2 linked regions of the Homo sapiens genome follow. The protein of the gene in region 1 interacts with the protein of each later gene in a biochemical or structural test. Each region holds a gene or a part of one and is shown on either strand. Other genes may lie near its edges.

What was found. Proteins that work in one complex are often made in the same cells at the same time.
Region 2: the proteins of RAB11FIP4 (region 1) and RACGAP1 form a complex in vitro, tested with the Homo sapiens proteins (one study listed by IntAct).

Annotation. Positions count from the first base shown.
Region 1 is NC_000017.11:31,520,674-31,527,703, reverse strand, and holds part of RAB11FIP4 (rab11 family-interacting protein 4), read right to left. Parts: intron 6,539-7,030; coding exon 6,344-6,538; intron 5,790-6,343; coding exon 5,655-5,789; intron 5,345-5,654; coding exon 5,309-5,344; intron 4,193-5,308; coding exon 4,093-4,192; intron 3,812-4,092; coding exon 3,708-3,811; intron 2,615-3,707; coding exon 2,474-2,614; intron 1-2,473. UniProt on the Homo sapiens protein: Acts as a regulator of endocytic traffic by participating in membrane delivery. Required for the abscission step in cytokinesis, possibly by acting as an 'address tag' delivering recycling endosome membranes to the cleavage furrow during late cytokinesis.
Region 2 is NC_000012.12:49,988,656-49,994,518, reverse strand, and holds the end of RACGAP1 (rac GTPase-activating protein 1), read left to right. Parts: intron 1-9; coding exon 10-105; intron 106-189; coding exon 190-388; intron 389-1,863; coding exon 1,864-1,969; intron 1,970-2,141; coding exon 2,142-2,274; intron 2,275-2,385; coding exon 2,386-2,521; intron 2,522-3,726; coding exon 3,727-3,835; intron 3,836-4,175; coding exon 4,176-4,251; 3' UTR 4,252-5,357; downstream 5,358-5,863.

The DNA.
Region 1 (7,030 bases):
ATGTCAAAGACAATTTAGCCGTGAGCTTCCTATCAGCCAAAGCAAAATAGTAAGGACTATTTGTAAGCAAAATAGTAAATTATCATTCTTATTTTCTTTCTTTTTTTTTTGAGACAGAGTCCTGCTCTGTTGCCCAGGCTGGAGTGAGGTGGCACAATCTCAGCTCTGCAACCTCTAACTCCTTCAGCAATTCTCGTGCCTCAGCCTCCTGAATAGCTGGGATTAGAGGCATGCACCACCACGCCTAGCTAATTTGTGTATTTTTAGTAGAGACGGGTTTTGCCATGTTGGCCAGGCTGGTCTCAAAAACTCCTGGCCTCATGTGATCCGCCCACCTTGGCCTCCCAAAGTGTTGGGATTACAAGAGTGAGCCACCACACGTGGCCTTTATTTTTCCAATAAGTGGAAACATTCATTAGAGAGTAGGAACGCAGATTCTTCTTGTATGCATCCTTCAGATCCTCAGACAACACGGGGATGTCTTTCTGCTAGATGGAGAAACAGTCTTCTTGTGGCTTCTGTGACTGGGCCCTCCTGTTAGACTCTGTAACTTGAAGGCAATGATCATATTGGCTTTTCATTCTCCGCCAACAGCATCTCATCCAGGGCTCTTCTCTGAGCGCTCACTGCACCTCCCTCTGATGACCACAGGCATGGGCTCTGACAGTAATAATCCTCTGTGTTAGCGTTCACACAGGAATTCCACAAAGGGAATCCTAAAGGGATTCCACAAGAAGACAGAGCCTGGGTGTTCAGGTCAGTTTTTTGTTTGTTTGTCTGTTTTGAGACGGAGTCTCAGTGGCGTGACCTCAGCTCACTGCAACCTCTGCCTCCCGGGTTCAAGCGATTCTCCTGCCTCAGCCTCCCGAGCAGCTGGGACTACAGGCGCGCACCACCACGCCTGGCTAATTTTTGTATTTTTAGTAGAGATGGGGTTTCACCATGTTGGCCAGGATGGTCTCCATCTCCTGACCTCGTGATCCACCTGCCTCGGCCTCCGAAAGTGCTGGGATTATAGGCGTGAGCCACTGTGCCCGGCCTCAGGTCAGTTTTAAATGGTCTGAGAATAGGTGCAGGTGAGTTGGGCCGTCGGTGGCAGCAGAACTGAACAGGGTCACTTCTGGCAGTGACTCCTGCAGAGCATCCCGTTCTCAACCCACCACCTCCCCATCATGTCCTCTTTCCTGGAAGGATGGCTTCTGGGCCTCCACTGCCCTCTGGGCTCCAGAGAGGAATTCAGCCCCACCACCAGCAGGTGGCCCCAAGCGGGTGGAAGTGGTAGGGAACCAAGCATACGGCAGGACTCTGGGAACACCACTCGGATATTTTACACGAATGGCGCCCCCGGAGCTGTGTGACGGGCACACGTTAGGAGACAGTTCCCGAGGGCTGGCTTTCTGCACTTTGTCCTGTGGCCCAGGTTCACACTGTCTTTTACCACCTCCCGTGTCCCAGCCACCTCTCTTGGGCCAGCTGCCGAGGCGGGCTGAGCGAGAGCAGTCACCCTTAACTAGGCACCAGCCTCCAGAAACAGATGCAAAACAGCAGCTTCTAGAATAGAGTCAAAATGTAAAATGAACCCCTGGTGGGTAACTTAGCAAAGCAGGTCTCAGACACCGGGGAGTTGGGAAGTCTCCTCACCAAACTGCACAGGGGCAGGGACACGGGGGCAGGGAGGTACCTGCCTGAGAGCCCAACTCCCAGTCATTTGCTCAGCAGCCCACCAGCCGCCAGGTGGGGCTCGGCAACTCTGGGAAGCCTCAGCATGGAGACTGGGGCCTCAGGGGGCCTGAGGAGTGCCAGGGCAGCTGTCCTCTCTGCCAGAAGCCCAGGCGGCCTCCTCGGCCTCGGTCAAGGGCCGCAAAGGGGCTTCATCACAGAGGCATCATCATAGCCCTCACCCGTGGGCAGGGTCTGGACTTACATCGGCTCACCCACCCACACAGCCGCTCTGTGGGGCACACAGGGAGGTGACCCAGTACGTCCAAGGCCATGGAGCTAATGGGAGACCAACTCAGATCCCTGGCCCGGGGCTGCTCCTTGTCCCGCCTGCGTCACGTTCCAATGACGAAGCCACAGGTACACGCAAGGCACAGGAGCCGGGTTTTCCATTTACCTTGGCCCTGGGGCTCTGGCTCAGTCCACCAGGGGTCAGGGGAGAACCTGACAGCAGGGGGCGCTCCAGGCCTGGATGTGAGACCCAGCCCAGGCCCTTTTCTCTGACAGACATTTGTGTGGTTTGCATTACCAAATGTGAGCCACGCTCCTGGGAACATTCCTTAGCGAACTTCCTGAAGAGCATGCCTCTGTGTTTCTCGTGGTATTAAAGTGGAACTGTTACTACTGGAAAGTCTCAAGAGGCTGCCCCTCAGCCTCACATTCCCATCTATAAAATGGGGATAGCGCCTATCCCACAGGGCTGCCCCAGGACAGGGGGTCCCTCTGAGGGAGGGGGCTCGGTGGAGGGGCCCACCTGGCATTGAGCAGCTCCACCTCGGTAGCCTTCTCCCTCTCCAGCTTGCCGTAGGCCTCGCGGTGGCGCCGCGCCTCCTCCTCCAGAGCCTGCTCGGCCGTGGTCTCCTGATCCTTCACCATCTCCTCCAGCTCATGCACCCTGAGGACAGCGCAATGGGCAAGCTCTTGGGGCCTGCACCATTTCACCCCAACCCAGGCTGTGGCACGGGGGACCCTGGGCCCCGAGACCCTGAGTCACTGGCATGTCCACTGAGGGCGTGTGGGCCAGTAGCTTTCAGAGAGATGAACGGGGACACCGCACATATAGAGGGGGTGTCGGTCACACATGCCATGGAGGGGCAGGCCTGGCAGTCAGAAGGTGGGGCGCTCAGGGCAGCACAGGGAGGGACCGCCCCCACCAGTCCCTGCAGCCACACCTGGCCGGAACCACCTCAGGCCTCACCTCTTCTTTTTGTGCTGTTCCTTCCCGGCCACCCCTCTGATTAATAATTCAGCTTATTGGGCACCTTGACTCCCAAAATAGGCACATCCTGGCTGGTGGCCTGAAGTCTGCCCCAGACCTGGGACAGGGCCAGGGGCACGTAGATGTGAGCACCCCAGTGACAGCCTGGTTGGTATTTCGGTCTGGGATACGTCTCACTGGCAACAGCCCCTCCACCAGGCTGACCTTCTGGGGTGTACAAAAGGGCCCATCTTTGGGCCCTGTGACAAGTTGGAGGACCGGACCCCTGGCCAGGGTATGTCCCCCAAGGGTCATGCCATCTGGTGAGGACAACTAAACCCTGAATCCACCACTGCAGACAGCATCAGGAACGGCAGGCTCAGGGGACCTCCATCAGCAGCAGTGCTGGACCCTTCCCACCGCCCAGCTCACACTGGCCTGTCCCCTGCAGAGCTTGTCCCTAGGAAGGGACGTCAGGCTCCTGTCACTGTATGAGTGAGACACAGTGGATCCCCACTCCCATCTTGGACCAGCCCTGTGGCTTCAGACCTCAGGGGGTAGAATCCATTGGGCCTAGAGCCAAGGTCAAGCTCCAACCTGTCTCCCTGTCCCTAAGGTCCTGTCCTGGGCACCACATGTGGGCAGGGCCATGTGACAAGAGGCTGATGCGTCACAGACCCTCAGAGCTGCAAAGGCATGAGGCTGCCTCCTCCTGGAGGTCTTAGCAAGATGGACCCCCCTTTGTTCCCCAGCGTCACGGCCGAGCCCCCAGCGCCGCTGCCTGCTTGACCTGTGCACCAGCTGTGTGTTCTCTTGCTTCAGCTTGCTCTTCAGGTCCCCATTGGTCAGGCTGTCATTCTCCAGCTCTGTCACCTTCTTTTCCAGGAAGCTTACCTGCAGCAGGGGGCCGGGGTGGGGTGGAGAAGACCTCTGAGGCCACAGAACCGAGAACCTCGACGCCATGAGGTTCATGAGCAGGACCTCCAAACCACTGTGTATCTGAGAACGGTCATGTGTGGGGTGGGGGAGTGGGGAACACGTGACCAGGGCCACCTGCCCCCAATTCCTAGGCAGGTACAGGGTCTCCCAAGTCCCCAGACAGTAGCCTGAGTGCACCCCATCTCCCCTGGGAGCAGGCATGCATTCAGTCCCTTCTCCAGCCACCCAAGGCCCACCTTCTCTGTGATGTCATTGTCGCAAGAGTCAATGCTGTCCCGGAACAGGTCTTCGGTGCTGCCATTGCTGCTGCTGAAGTTGCTGCTGTGCATGAGCTGCCTGCAGGGGTGGGAGGAGGGTGTCTGGCTGCAGGGGCCTTCCAGAGACAGGGGCCTACTCACACTACTGGCTAGGCGAGCATCCAGTACCCCAGGGGGTCTGCCCCTTTAAGGAGGCTGCCCTCACTCAGCCTGAGAGGAAGAATGTTGCCAAACTCAGCGGATCACCCCGCCCAGAGGATGGCAAATGGGCTGTACAGACCCCCGGGGTCCCCTGGCAGACACAGCCAATGACGCACAGCTTCTCCTGCGGCCTCAGAACCCTCTTCACGCCAGCATGCTGGCCTGCAGCTACCCAGTGACCTCAGCTGGCACGTGAGCCCCCTCCTCTTCCAGTGGGGAAGCCCCCAAGGAGGTAGCCCAGCTCCATGGCCCTGGAAGAGGGTCTGGGCCTCCTGAGGCTTGAGCCTCTCCACCAAGCTGGCTCCTGCTACGTCTCTGGGAACTCTGGGGGATGGCAAAGGCAGAGAATTCTCCAGGCCTTGCAGAGCAGTGAGCTGGGGTGGGACTGGGCCTGCTGAGCTAACCCGTGCCTGAGGCAAAATCCAGCTGCCACCCCCAGTGACATCCCCTTCCAGCTCCCTGATAGGCAGCAGCCAGGGTCTCTGCCAAGAGGCCAACCCACCTAGCTCCTGGGCCCTTGCTGCCAGCTCCCAGAGCCCTGAGTGTGGACCTGGGGCCACACTGAACTGCCGCAGGACTTAATCGGAGCAAAGTGACCAGCCCCAATGGCGCACACTCATGCCCAGATCCCCGCCTGCAGGAAACCCGGGGTCTCTTTATTGAGTATGGCTGCCAGCTCCAAGAGGCAGGAAGGGCACTGAACGCTGTGGGGTGCTCTGTCTCTCTCAGGGCATCCCTGGCATGCCTGCCTGAAGTCAAGGTGACCTAGGATTTGAAGAAGGGACAAGGGGTGGGGAGAGAGCAGGGAGGAGCTGGCCCCTCTTTTTCAGAAGTGACGCTGCCCTGGCTGCACTGCCCTGGGATGGCCTCGTTCCCCTCTGCTCACTCAGCCACATGCGGGCACCAGCTGAGTCCGGGCTGCTGGCAGGGAGCCCCGGCCAGTGGGCAGCATGGGGACAGCACTCAATTTGCCCTCCCTCGAGGCGGGCCTTACCGTCCAAAGGCCGTGCTGGAGATCTTTCGGTTGGGGCTAGAGAGAGAAAGGAAACAGTCATTGAACAGAGGGGTTCTAGTCCACTCCCTTACTCTGTCCTAGCTGTAAGACACCACAGTGCAGGACAAGGCTCTTCCCTCCCACTGAAAGGAATTCACTAGTCAGCTTGGTCCTGAGAAGAAACAGCCTGATTTCCTGTGGCAGAAAAAGCCCCTGGATCAACCCTCCTCTGAGAGCTCTCACCTGCCCAGACAGCAGGGGTCGCCTCGCCATGCCCGTAGCTTCTCCCTCCAGGCCCTGCCCTGGCCCCCCGGCCTCTCACCCCCCAGCTGGGCCTGGGCCTCACCTGTTGGCCTTCAGGTTTTTCAGTCGGGCTTCCAAGTCATTGAGCAGGTTGATTTTCTTGCAGCATTGAGAGCAGTAAACATCTAGCAATTCGCTGTTGTACACGTGCCGCATTTTCCTAGGCGTCTGCCCCGCACTGATTCATGAGGGAAAGGAATCACCACCTTAACTGCTGTCCAGTCTGGTGCCCTACACCACCCTGCTGAGCTGACTTTACTTGAGTCCCCAGTACCTTTGAACCTTGTTACGGGGGAGGGGCAGGGAGTGGAAATATAGCAACAGATCATCCCTTCTCCAACACGCTCAAAGAGAAGCCAGTGAGGCATACCCATTTAACAGCTAAGGCAAACTGCGAGCTCATTTCAGAGAAAGTGGTGACTCAGGTGGGTGAGAAGGGATCACAGGGGTCACTTGGAAGGATGCTTCAACACTGAGGTTCTAGGATACAAGATGACACAGAGCCCCGTGGCCCCCAGTGTGCAGCCTCCTAGGTCAGTTAATTCAGGAGGAACTCCTGACCCCTAATCAGGGTGCGAAGGTAGCAACCCCAAGCCCCAGGAGCAGAACTCAAGTAGCTGAGGACAAAGGAAAAGGGCCAGCTCAGGACTCGCACCCCCCCACCCCCTAGGATGTGCTTAAATTGCTTCTGCAACTTTTGACCCCAAATGACATCCCAGACCAAGGGGCCACCTGGAAGACACCGAAGACCCCAGGTCCGAGTAGACGTTGGTCCTGGTCTCATCATCGGGGCAAGGGCTGCTGGGGGCACAGTCCACATCGTCACCCTCCCCATAGTCTTCAAACTGCTCCTCATTGCTGATGAGCGAGGTGGTGGAGTGTGTAGAAAGGTCTGAGGTCGTCATGGATGGAGTGTGGACCAGGGACCTGAGGGTCCGAGAGCACCCAAGTCAGAGGAGGACTCATGGGTCCCCAGCCACAGCCCGTGGTGGGGAAACTGACAGGCATTTCCCTTTAATTGGCACTACCGATTAAGTTTGTAGCTCTTGACCTGGTAAGTACATTTCAGGGACCCTATCTAAAGGGAAACATCTCACCACAGAAACCATTTCTACAGTTCAAACCAATTCTACCCATGCTACTCCACAGTAGCAAAACACTGCTTACAACCTAATTGTCTAGCTACAGCTAGATCAAATTATAATTATTAAATTATAATGTTAGTAAATTATTAAATTGTGGAATATCAAATAGTTGTTGAAAGGTTTGTTAAAACATTTGTAGTAGTGGCAGGCGCGGTGGCTCACGCCTGTAACCCCAGCACTTTGGGAGGCCGAGGCGGGCGGATCAGAGGTCAGGAGATCGAGACCATCCTGGCTAACATGGTGAAACCCCAACTCTACTAGAAATACAAAAAAT
Region 2 (5,863 bases), on another chromosome or scaffold:
TTTTTCCAGGGAATGCTGGCAGACTTTGTGTCCCAGACTTCTCCAATGATCCCCTCCATTGTTGTGCATTGTGTAAATGAGATTGAGCAAAGAGGTCTGACTGAGGTAAGAGTCAACTGTAGGAGATGGTGAATTTGTTATTTGTGTTAATTCGGAGGTTTTTAAATAAAAATGTCATCTTGATAATAGACAGGCCTGTATAGGATCTCTGGCTGTGACCGCACAGTAAAAGAGCTGAAAGAGAAATTCCTCAGAGTGAAAACTGTACCCCTCCTCAGCAAAGTGGATGATATCCATGCTATCTGTAGCCTTCTAAAAGACTTTCTTCGAAACCTCAAAGAACCTCTTCTGACCTTTCGCCTTAACAGAGCCTTTATGGAAGCAGCAGGTAAGGGCAGATGTAATACTTGAATATGAATTCCTCCACGGCAGTAGTTTTTCTTACTCTCTTTATTTTTTTATTTATTTTTTATTTTTTAGACAGAGTCTCACTCTCGCCCAGGCTGAAGTCAGTGGCGCAATCTCAGCTCACTGCAACCTCCGTCTCCCAGGTTGAAGCGATTCTCCTGCCTCAGCCTCCTGAGTAGCTAGGATTACAGGCGTGTGCCACCATGCCTGGTTAATGTTTTCTATCTTTAGTAGAGATGGGGTTTCACCATGTTAGCCAGGATGGTCTCGATCTCCTGCCCTGTGATTTGCCTGCCTCGGCCTCCCAAAGTGCTGCGATTACAGGCGTGAGCCACCGTGCCCAGCCTCTTTTTTTTTTTTTTTTAAGACGGAGTCTTTCTCTGTCGCCCAGGCTGGAGTGCAGTGGCGCTATCGGCTCACTGCAAACTCCGCCTCCTGGGTTCAAGCGATTCTCCTGCCTCAGCCTCCTGAGTAGCTGAGATTACAGGCGTTAACGGTGTTATACCATGTTAGCCAGGCTGGTCTCAAACTCCTGACCTCAGGTGATCTACCCACCTTGTCCTCCCAAAGTGCTGGGATTACAGGCATGAGCCACCACACCTGGCCACCTTCCTCTTTTTATTAGCTCCTGCCTAGTACAATGCCTGAAACATAGTAGGTGCTCAAGTAGTTTGATGGATGAGTAACTGTATGCGTGTCACCCTTGCCTATCCTCTTGCTTTCTCATTACGTTATTGTGTACAGTGTTCTTCCTTTCTTTCCTTCCTCTCCAGTTAGGTTGGAGCTTTTTCAATTCTTAGAATATACCAAGTTTACTCCCTACCTTAAGGCCTTCACATTTGTTGTCTCAACCTGAATGCTCTTACATTAGATACAGTATGGTTTGCTCCTTTATTTCTTTCATATTTCTCTTCATATACCTTGTCCCCAGAAACACCTTTCCTGACAACCTTGTCTAGATTAACAGCTCTCATTTCTTTCTAGCTTCTTGCCTGCCTTGTTTTCTTCATTTATGTATCACTCTACCTGATAGGTATTTGCTTTTTGACTGACTCCACCAATAGAATGTAGGTTCCATAAGATAAGGGCTTTGTTTACTTCTGCTTTATCCTCAGCACTTGTACCTGGCACATCGTAGGCCCTTAAATATGTCTCATGAATGAATACCTTCTTGGTAATTGTAGTCACTGCAATTGTATGCCTGTCTGCCTAGCACATCAGTTGCCAACTGCTTTCCCTAACTGCAAAGGCCGATTTTTTAAAAGTTTTGACTTCTAATATTGAGCTGTTGGCCAGTATCCTGCTTGTTAATGAAACTAGAGTCTGATGTAGTCATGAACTAATCAGGAGTTTCAGAAGCTTACTGTATAGATGAGACTTTGTGGTCGATAACTTGGAAGCCCGCTGTCAAGGGAAAGAAGTCTAGGCCTCTTGGTGCTTTCTTTTCAATTACAGAAATCACAGATGAAGACAACAGCATAGCTGCCATGTACCAAGCTGTTGGTGAACTGCCCCAGGCCAACAGGGACACATTAGCTTTCCTCATGATTCACTTGCAGAGGTGAGTACAGCAGAAACTTGTTCTGGGAGTTAGGGAATTTTTTTCCAAGGGGAAGATAATGTGGGTTGAGTGTTTGGGAGTATGAGGGATGAATTGTTTTCTTATAGAATTTATATTTTGGTCTGCATTTAAGCAAGGAGCAAGACTTCTAATTTAATATTCTTTTGCTTAGAGTGGCTCAGAGTCCACATACTAAAATGGATGTTGCCAATCTGGCTAAAGTCTTTGGCCCTACAATAGTGGCCCATGCTGTGCCCAATCCAGACCCAGTGACAATGTTACAGGACATCAAGCGTCAACCCAAGGTAGGCAGGTGCGTGTGTGTGTGTATGTGAACTTGTGTAATGTGATAACTTGAAAGACAGTTGAGAAGCCCTGAGCTTTGGAAGTTTGCTAACAGATTTGCTGGCTTTTAGGTGGTTGAGCGCCTGCTTTCCTTGCCTCTGGAGTATTGGAGTCAGTTCATGATGGTGGAGCAAGAGAACATTGACCCCCTACATGTCATTGAAAACTCAAATGCCTTTTCAACACCACAGACACCAGATATTAAAGGTAAGGCCCAAGATGTGCTTCTTCAGGGACTTGACTCTCTCTTTAGTTTTAGTCATATGACCTCTTCCTGCCTTTGCTAGAGCTGTTTGAAAATTCTAACATTAAAGGAAAATTTGTATAATTCTACCATCGTAATTTTTTTTTGCTTTTCCATGTTCTCCTTTCTTTATCCATATGGATATATGTTTTTTAAATATAGATATAATAGGCTGGGCATGGTGGCTCACACCTGTAGTCCCAGCACTTTGGGAGGGAGGCTGAGGCGGACGGATCACAAGGTCAGGGGATTGAGACCATTCTGGCCAACATGGTGAAACCCCATCTCTACTAAAAATACAAAAATTAGCTGGGTGTGGTGGCGCATGCCTGTAATCCCAGCTACCAGGGCGGCTGAGGCACAAGGAATTGCTGGAACCCAGGAGGCGGAATTTGCAGTGAGCTGAGATCCCGCCACTGCACTCCAGCCTGGTGACAGAGTGAGACTCTGTCTAAAAAAAAAAAAAAAAAAAAAAAAAAAATATATATATATATATATATATAATAGTTTAAATATAATTCATTCTTATTTCACTTAGCATGTTGTGAGAACTTTTTCTCATGTATAATCTTATTTATCATTTACTTAAATGTTCTAGTAGGTATTAACATTATTTTTCAATTTTTCATAATTACAAGTAATGCTATAGTCAATATAGCATTTCTCTTAATGATAAATTCCTAAGAGTGGGATCACTGAATTAAATGGCTTGAACATTTTTATGTGTCTTGGTATGTTTTACCAACTTGATTTATTAAATTTCTTATAGGCTTTTGCCAATTTATATTGCTAACCAACAATTTTATATGAATAGGCTGGTTTCACTCCAGTCTCACTGGCATTGGAGACCCATTCTTTCATTATTGCAAGTTCCTTCTAAGGGAGCATATTGCTTCTTCTAGTATAGCTAAAAGTCAGATGTTTAGATGTTAGATTTGTGAAGTGTGGAGTTAGAGAATGGCCTAAATCAGGACGTGTCAGCTATTCATTGAGTTCAAAAGATACACTAGTGTGTTACAGAATGATGACAAAAATGATCTCTGGGACTTTGCTAGATGTCTAACCTTAGCTCTTAAGTGCTTCAGAGGGTAATCAGCTTAAAACTAGCCATCTAAAAAGATGCCTTCTTTTTTCCCACCTCTCTTAAAAATATGTCTGAACTTTGAAGTGAGTTTACTGGGACCTGTGACCACTCCTGAACATCAGCTTCTCAAGACTCCTTCATCTAGTTCCCTGTCACAGAGAGTCCGTTCCACCCTCACCAAGAACACTCCTAGGTATGCAGAATTGGCCTTCCTAGGAAATAAAAAACAACTACTTTCTTAGACTTCTTATTATATTGAAGCTTATTGAAAGAAAAATTGCATTCGATTTTAGCTAGCAACTAGACTTTAAAAGGGAACGTGGGGCTATAAGGATTCCTTCTTTAAAAAGGTTCTGAAAGTCTTTACTATTTCCCCTCTCTCGTTGTTGGTGACTAAGAATACTTAAGCAACTATTGCAAAATAGTTGTCTAGGGTTTCCTACTTATAATGGGTTATATCAAGTAATATTATAGTTGTTTATTCAACCATTTTTTATAGAATATTTTTCCAGTTCATTCTCTTTTTATTGTAGATTTGGGAGCAAAAGCAAGTCTGCCACTAACCTAGGACGACAAGGCAACTTTTTTGCTTCTCCAATGCTCAAGTGAAGTCACATCTGCCTGTTACTTCCCAGCATTGACTGACTATAAGAAAGGACACATCTGTACTCTGCTCTGCAGCCTCCTGTACTCATTACTACTTTTAGCATTCTCCAGGCTTTTACTCAAGTTTAATTGTGCATGAGGGTTTTATTAAAACTATATATATCTCCCCTTCCTTCTCCTCAAGTCACATAATATCAGCACTTTGTGCTGGTCATTGTTGGGAGCTTTTAGATGAGACATCTTTCCAGGGGTAGAAGGGTTAGTATGGAATTGGTTGTGATTCTTTTTGGGGAAGGGGGTTATTGTTCCTTTGGCTTAAAGCCAAATGCTGCTCATAGAATGATCTTTCTCTAGTTTCATTTAGAACTGATTTCCGTGAGACAATGACAGAAACCCTACCTATCTGATAAGATTAGCTTGTCTCAGGGTGGGAAGTGGGAGGGCAGGGCAAAGAAAGGATTAGACCAGAGGATTTAGGATGCCTCCTTCTAAGAACCAGAAGTTCTCATTCCCCATTATGAACTGAGCTATAATATGGAGCTTTCATAAAAATGGGATGCATTGAGGACAGAACTAGTGATGGGAGTATGCGTAGCTTTGATTTGGATGATTAGGTCTTTAATAGTGTTGAGTGGCACAACCTTGTAAATGTGAAAGTACAACTCGTATTTATCTCTGATGTGCTGCTGGCTGAACTTTGGGTTCATTTGGGGTCAAAGCCAGTTTTTCTTTTAAAATTGAATTCATTCTGATGCTTGGCCCCCATACCCCCAACCTTGTCCAGTGGAGCCCAACTTCTAAAGGTCAATATATCATCCTTTGGCATCCCAACTAACAATAAAGAGTAGGCTATAAGGGAAGATTGTCAATATTTTGTGGTAAGAAAAGCTACAGTCATTTTTTCTTTGCACTTTGGATGCTGAAATTTTTCCCATGGAACATAGCCACATCTAGATAGATGTGAGCTTTTTCTTCTGTTAAAATTATTCTTAATGTCTGTAAAAACGATTTTCTTCTGTAGAATGTTTGACTTCGTATTGACCCTTATCTGTAAAACACCTATTTGGGATAATATTTGGAAAAAAAGTAAATAGCTTTTTCAAAATGAACATGAGGCTGGTTTTCTTGTCTTGCAAGGTAATTTTCAATGCCTTTTAGAAAATCATTTCTGGGGCTGGGCTTGGTGGCTTATGCCTCTAATCCCAGCACTTTGGGAGGCCAAGATAGGTGGATCACCTGAGGTCAAGAGTTTGAGATATGGCCAAACTCTGTCTCTACAAAAAATACAAAATTAACTGGGCGTGGTGGTGCACACCTGTGGTCCCAGCTACTTGGGAAGCTAATGTGGGAAAATTGAGCCTGGGAGGCAGAGGTTGCAGTGAGCTGAGATCGTGCCACTGCACTCCAGCCTGGGTGACAGAGTGTGAGACCCTGTCACAAAAAAAAAAAAAGAAAAAATTACTTCCTTCAAAGTGTCTTGACTCTGTTGTTCATCCCCATTTCCCACTCTCTGGACCCACCCCAGGCTTACCACCACCGGGAGTTTGTTTCTTCATTTCTCATCCAGTCTCTCTTTGTCCAAACTGGAGTTGTAGAGTTGTCCTATGCCTGTTGT